Homo sapiens: one gene and its partner. The protein of the gene in region 1 purifies or fractionates together with the protein of each later gene. This does not show direct contact. Each region holds a gene or a part of one and is shown on either strand. Other genes may lie near its edges. The genes, in order: NR1D2 and SATB2.

What was found.
Region 2: the proteins of NR1D2 (region 1) and SATB2 purify together in Homo sapiens (affinity purification with mass spectrometry; 2 studies listed by BioGRID and IntAct, with this or other methods). This does not show direct contact.

Annotation. Positions count from the first base shown.
Region 1 is NC_000003.12:23,965,624-23,969,444, reverse strand, and holds part of NR1D2 (nuclear receptor subfamily 1 group D member 2), read right to left. Parts: intron 1,633-3,821; coding exon 1,422-1,632; intron 1-1,421. UniProt on the Homo sapiens protein: Transcriptional repressor which coordinates circadian rhythm and metabolic pathways in a heme-dependent manner.
Region 2 is NC_000002.12:199,321,781-199,325,601, forward strand, and holds part of SATB2 (DNA-binding protein SATB2), read right to left. Parts: intron 2,179-3,821; coding exon 2,023-2,178; intron 1-2,022. UniProt on the Homo sapiens protein: Binds to DNA, at nuclear matrix- or scaffold-associated regions. Thought to recognize the sugar-phosphate structure of double-stranded DNA.

The DNA of each region.
Region 1 (3,821 bases):
ACGTCATATACACATTTTTAGTTATCCAGGTAGAGCTGGTCAGAAAAGGTAGCCAAATTATGTTACCAAATGGCAAGTCTTTATTCCACTGAGGTACAGGTCCTCAAAATTATACAAATAACTTGTTTTTTTTTTGTTGTTTTTGTTTTTGTTTTTTAACACGGAGTCTCGCTCTGTCACCCAAGCTGGAATGCAAGCTGGTGTGATCTCGGCTCACGGCCACCTCTGCCTCCCAGGTTCAAGCGATTCTCCTGCTTCAGCCTCCTGAGTAGCTGGGACTACAGGCACGTGCCACCATGCCCGGCTAATTTTTGTATTTTTAGTAGAGAAGGGGGTTTCACCATGTTGGCCAGGCTGGTCTCAAATTCCTGACCTCAGGTGATCCACCCACCTCAGCCTCCCAAAGTGCTGGGATTACAGGCGTGCACCCCTGGCGCCTGGCCAAGAACTTGTTCTCTTTCAAGAGCTACTAATTTATGGTTTAGCTACATAATCAGAGGCCGTAACTTATAACTCTCACAATGCCTAGCACAGTGCCCTTTACACAGTAGGAAGCAAATGGGAAACAAAGTCATAACCAAATACTAAAAAATTCCCAAATGTTATACAATAAAATGATGCCTAAAAATAGCTGGCACTTACTTAGACATACCCAGGAAAGTACCTCAATTTCCATTTGTTATTGGGAGTAACAATCTCTGCCTTAATGGGTACTGTCAGAAATAACTGTAATATTAATGCAAGATGGCAGGGGCATTGGGAAACATCATAAATGACTCATATAAATAAACATTAGAAACTCAAAAATCTTGCTCACTCATTCAAACAGTGACTGAGTAGCTCTTCTATGCCAGACACCACACTAGGCTCACATGGTACAACCCCTTCCTTTGACAGGATGAGGAAGGAATCCAAGACCCAAAAGAGTAAAGTTACTTACCCAAGTTACCCACATAATTCAATGGCAGAACTGGACTAAAGCCTACAACTAATTCACATTTCTCTGCAACAAACCACACTAATACCTCTTGATACTTTTAATGTTTTCAAGTAACCCACATTGTATTTGAATGGAAACTGAAATTCATATTACAACTACCTACCTGGAGATACATAATGTTCTAACAAATTCATGAAATAAAGATTTAGACTCATAGAAAAATTATGAACAAAAAGCTAAAGACTAACAGTGGTAAACACAAGGCCTAGATGTAAGTATTACTTTATTCCTATAGTACTTTGACATATATTGTTATAACGAAAAAATTAGTTACACAAAAATAACAGGGTCATACAATTTAGCATCTTCCTTAAGGCCTTATTCCCTCTATATAACTTTCTGGAACCCTGTTAACTGCCATCTTCTCCCCAGTTGGTCACTATATGCTAGGTGTGGCACAATTTTGAACCAGCTTGCTTACCTGCAGATACCAGGACAACAGCTGTAAACAAACTCATCTCTTCATCACTAAGTTGGAGGGCATTTAGCTTCTCACTAAATTCAAACATAGAGTTTAGCAGATCCCCTGCTCCCATTGAGTGTAAATCATCCACACTATATTTCTTTCCACTTAAAAAGGTGACAGTACGTTCCTTTGCATCAAATAATGATGCGAACCGTACCATTAAAACCTGGAAAAAGAAAAAGAAATGTATTTGGAGAAGTCTAACAGCAATAATAAAAAAATAACTTAGTATTCAATCAAGTCAGTTATGAATCATCCCACATATAAAAGAAAGTTATAAAAGAAAAACAGGGTATACTTTTACTCAAAACCACTCTATTCTATTCTATTCTATATTCTATATTCTATTCTATTCTATTTTTGACATGGAGTTTCGTTCTTGTGGCCCGAGCTGGAGTGCAATGGCATGATCTTGGCTCACTGCAACCTCCGCCTCCCGGGTTCAAGCATTTCTCCTGCCTCGGCCTCCCAAGTAGCTGGGATTACAGGTGTGCGCCACCACGCCCAACTAATTTTTGCTATTTTTAGTAGAAGCAGGGTTTCACCATGTTAGCAAGGCTGGTCTCAAACTCCTGACCTCAGGTGATCCACCCGCTTCAGCCTCCCAAAGTGCTGGGATTACAGGTGTGAGCCACCATGCCAGATTTTATTTTTTGAGATGGAGTTTTCTTCTTGTCACCCAGGCTGGAGTGCAGTGGCACGATCTCAGCTCACTGCAACCTCTGCCTCCTGGGTTCAAGCGATTCTCCTGCCTCAGCCTCCCAACTAGCTGGGATTACAGGCACACGCCACCACGCCCAGCTGATTTTATTTTTAGTAGAGATGGGGTTTCACCATGTTGACCAGGCTGGTCTCAAACTCGTGACCTTAGGTGATCCACCCATCTCGGCTTCCCAAAGTGCTAGAATTACAGGCATGAGCCACAGCGCCCGGCCTATTTATTTATTTATTTATTGAGACAGGGTCTTGCTCTGTTGCCCAGGCCGGAGATGCAATCACAGCTCACTGCAACCTGAACCTCCCCGGCTCAAGTGATCCTTTCCACCTCAGCCTCCTGAATAGCTGAGAATACAAATACATACCACCACACCCAGCTAATTTTTGTATTTTTTGTAGAGACAGGGTTTCACCATGTTGCCTAGGCTGGTCTCGAACTCCTGGACTCAAGTGATCGGCCTGCCTCGGCCTCCCAAAGTGCTGGGATTACAAGCATGAGCCACTGCACCCGGTCCCAAAACCACTTTCTTAAGACAGATTCTCTACCAAAGCAATAAATACTCCAAGAAGAACATCAAAAGAAATTCTAGCCACTCATGGCAAAGATACTCTGCCACTCTATTAACAAAGATTCTGAAATGCAATATAAAATTAGAGCAAGAAATAGTGCCAGTAAATTTAAAACTGGGCCCTGGCCAAAGGCATTAAAGAATCTCTTTAGGCTGCCAAGTATAACACATGGCCTCTATGCCTTAAGTAAAAAGAGCAAAATTCCAATGCAGCAACACTTCGAAACATCAACACATCAAATGCAGCCAAGGCAAAGGAAGCAGATGAAGTCTAACTGAACTGCTTCAAGAAACCAACACCCAAAGAGACTATCCACAAAGAAAGCTATCACAGTAAGTGTTCTAAGCACCATGTTATAATTGACATCCAAGTTAAATCGGTTAACAATTATATTACTTAGTTATCTCACTCCCTCCGTTATAATAAATCCAGGGAGAAGTGAAAATATAGCCCTGGCTCACTTCTTCCATCCATAAAAGGTTCAAAGATTTGGCCCACCAAACATCAACTTCCTCTCACCACCCCAATCTCAGAGTTGTCCTTAATTAGGTCCCAAGGCATCTCACACCTTGGCAGCAAAAGGGATGCCCTGGGGCAGACAGAAGGTGAAAGACACCTAACTAAGGACCAGGAGAGGCACATCTGTTAAGTTATACAGTAGAGACTACCCCAAGCCCAAGCAGGATACAGTGTTGCAAGAGAAGCGGGACAGAAAAGTAGCCAAGGATCCTGAAGCAAGGTGAAACCAGGAAGAGCTAAGGTGGCACATAAGAAATGTCTGATATATCCCCAAAATATTCTACAGTCTCTCGAAAAACGAAATCACATTCTATTTGCCCTTCTTATTCTGTATCGAATACAGTAAATGCTAGGCTAGGCTTTCAGGAGGTGTCTAACACTGCAGAAACTTGTTAAGTCCACATCTAAAAGCAATACTAGAACTCAGGAGTTCATATGCTGTAGATACAGAATACCTATATTTCAAATCCTAAATAATAAGTAAAAAATATATATAAAATCCTAAACAATTCTGGATTTACCAAGTCTCCCAAGTCTGTTCCCAAAATC
Region 2 (3,821 bases), on another chromosome or scaffold:
AAACATAATAAACATAGTGCCTGAATTGCCTATCTAGTCAGCTATTTACAATAAGGTTCCCCACTCATAGATGAAAATGAGATCATTGTCCCAGTGAAAAAGGAACAACCTCAAAGCATCTTATCCTCACTTAAGCTCAATCTTACCTTCAGCATATTAATTCCCAGAACTATGTTCTTCTCCAAATTCTACGAAATCAGGGCTACTGATTTCTTCAGGAGACATCAAAAATTTGGAGAGCTAAGCTTCTGCCAGTTGGCAAAAGCAGCTTTCAATCAGCTACCTGAATTATTTTAGGAGGCTGGAGGCATCACTATTTCCAAAAGCCATACTGCTAAATCAACAGGAAGATTACAGGCTTTTGGAATCAAGTTCTCAGACTGTGGTCTTCAGTTTTTCTTGAAAGCTGCTTATAAAAGAAGGACTGTGTGAAACTTTGATATTTACATCAAGTCACAACTAAGGGGCAGGTTTGCAAAATCAATTGTGCAGCTTTTATACTCACTGCACATTTACCACATATGTCCTTTATTACACAGTGGAAAACCATTAAATGCACAGTAGTTTTGCCAAGTGGCATTATGCATTTAACAGCTTTATTCGTTTAACAGCTCCAACTCTCATTATATTTTGCCATGTGGTACATGGGATTTTATGCATTTAACAGTTTAAGAAGGCTCTATGGTATTTTCTTTTCATGTATTTCATACTATGGTTGGACATTATGTCTTAGCAAACTGTATTTCACTGATTTCATTGAAGAGAGAAAGTCAGAGTAATCTGGAAAACTTACTACACTGAAATTGAAAAGGGAAACAAACATTTCAATCCCTTTCCAAGTTCCTTGATATTCTACTCCCCTCCTTTTATCAACATCTAAAAATAACCTATATCAGGTTAAAACTGCAGGTAAAGAAGGCTAACCCTGTACTCTATAATTAATCTAAATATAACATTTAACTACAGTTTGAAGTTTTTCAGTTTTAAAAATTTAATTTTTATTGAAAACCTTCTTGCTTAATAGAAATACAATACTCAGTCACTTCCTTTCTTTATAGCACACAACAGAAGATTTGTTAGGGAGATGATCAACCATTTGATTATTTACATATGTAGGGATGAAAACATTTGTCATATAAGGACACAGAGGAAATCAAGCTCAGAATCAAAGGACTCTCAAAATTATGCTTTAACTAACTTTTATTTCCTCCACTCTGCATTAGGTGTTCGCCCTAGGTATACATAAGTGAGCATGCACCTCAAACCTAGGATTCTAGGTTTGGGCAGAAGTTGTCCCTTTAAATGAAGAATTGAAGCAGATAGTAGATCCCATCAACTGTTGCTGCTTTCAGAAATAAAAAACCTAAGCATCTGTCTGCTCTTTTCCCCAGAGCATTACATTCTCCACAATCCCAGAACTCTGAAAAATTTTACTGGATAAGCTTCTGTGTTTTTCTGTTAAAAGATTTTAGCACTTACTCTGCACTCCCCCCACGTGTGTTTTCTCCTGAAAAAATCAACTGTATTCTGTACATAAAAGAAACACCTGACATCAAAAGGTGTCTCTGGGGCTGGGGAAAAGTGGTTATTATAACAGAGTTGGACATTCCCCTTGTGGGAACAGGAAAGGTGATGAGACTTGGCTAAAACTTGGTCTCAGAAAGGTGCTGTTATATACATTCTAAGTTTTGTTCATACACACACACACACACACACACACACACACACATATATAAAGGGAGAGAAACAAAAGGGTACATTGCAGTGTTTAGAATAAGGAGAGAAATCATTCGAGGCTAATTTTTTTTAATCTTTAAAAGAAAAAAGGTCAAGTTTTGGCTTCATCTCTATTTTGAACTCCAATGGGAATAAAAGCAAACTAGAGTAAAAGGCAGAACATGACAGGTTTCTTGGGGGTTATTACTGTTATTATTATTATAGGAACAGATGTATTTTTATTGGTGGAGGAAGGAGAAGGATCTAATTCCAGCCCTCGATTTTGCTTTTTTAAAAACCACTCACCTGACTTTTATTTGCAGCCACTTTGGCAAACAGGGCTTGAGACACCTTGGCCCTTTTCATCTCCTGTTGGATCTCGTCATAAATGGCAGCTGTGATGTTGATGTTGGCGCCGTCCACCTTAATAGGGAGGTCTGTTGTCGGTGTCGAGGTTTTGGCCTACCAAGAGACCATGAAAATAATAATTTAAAAAGTGCTGCATTCAGCCCAGCCATCTGTGCAGAAATTATCAAAGGATTTCAGTCAGCTGATGCCAAACTGCATTAGCTACAGAGGGACACTTCCTGTCCATTATTCTAATCAGGTTAATTGTGATTGGAAATAATTGCAGTGCATTCCTATAGGACATGCAGAATCCTGTCAACCCTGTTCTCTCACAGCATCCCAGACGAAGGTTCACAGGTAGGATGGCTCTCCTAGACACCAAACTATAAGCAACCATCTAACTACAAAACAAACATGCAGAACACACACACAGTTAACCTTTTCTTTCTAAAAATGGCACACCTTGGAATAAGAGCCAATTCTTCCAGAAAAAAAATAAGTAAATGGGTAGAGGTCTCTAAATAATAAATTATTACTCAATTTAATGCACTCCCAAGTCTCTCTTATTCTTTATTAAAGCTTTACATATGTCATTCGAGTATGTATGGTTTCCCATCATTATCATCATTATGCTACCCAGACAGTCACCTAATTTCACCTAGGAAATCAGTGGAAATGAAACAAAATTTCATTTCATAAAACTAGGCTTCACAATGCCTTTGATGTGCCGTTTTCATTTTCTTAAACTCATATTGCGGTTTTATGTATTCTGCAGTGCTCGTTTTAATTGAATGATTTCCCATCAGCTTCAGAGACAAATGAAGGACAATATAGAAGTCTGTACTTCTTGGGGTTAGGATAACCCTAAAATGTCTGAATCTACTTAATCCAAAAGACGGTCATAACATTTACTTGGTGTGAGCCCTAGAATGCATTGCTGGTGTCTAATAAGAGAGGGCTGAGACATTTTCTTAGAACCTCTGGCAGCAAGATTTCAGGAAAAGACATCCTTGATCCTTGTGCACTACCAGCCGAATTGGCCTAACCTGGGTTTTTTCTCTTTGTCCCCATTCACCCTAGAATCTCAAACCAACAGAGTTATCTCCAAATCACAAGTTTCCCTGTGCGGATGCCCTGAGCTGTTCTCTACTGGATCCAGCAGTATGCAGGTCCAGAGAAAGATGTAACAGGCAGTGTGGACTCTGTGACAAATGGTGTCTAGCGGCAGAACTTAAGGCCCTACGTTTCCATAAAGGCTTTGCTTCCTAACAGTGCTCAGTAACTTCTGCCATTTTTCTTCTACCTCCTTCTCTCATACTATTTTCTAATTACCGCAAAGCAATAATTACTATAATTTATGGCGTGCTTTTTATGGGCCAGGTACTCCAGAAAGCATTTTAACATTTGTTTTCACATTTAATTCTTTTAAGATTCCAATGAGTTAGATATTATTATTTTCATCTTACAGATGAAGAAACTGAAATAAAAGAGGATCTTAACCTAGGACACCCAGCAGCCAGTGAAGGAACCATGATCTGAACGCAAGTCTTTCAGGCTCAAAAACATGGGCTCAGGACACTGCACTACACACTGCCTCCAAAATCTCCAATTTATGCCAGGTGCTGTTGTAAGAATTTTCTTGCTATGTTGGGACTTTCCCATTAAAAATTCAATTATCTGTAATTTTTTAAAATAAACTATTTGTTCTGCTCAAAATTTCTAGTTAACCCACAGTGCTTTCCCTGTTAAGAGAACGT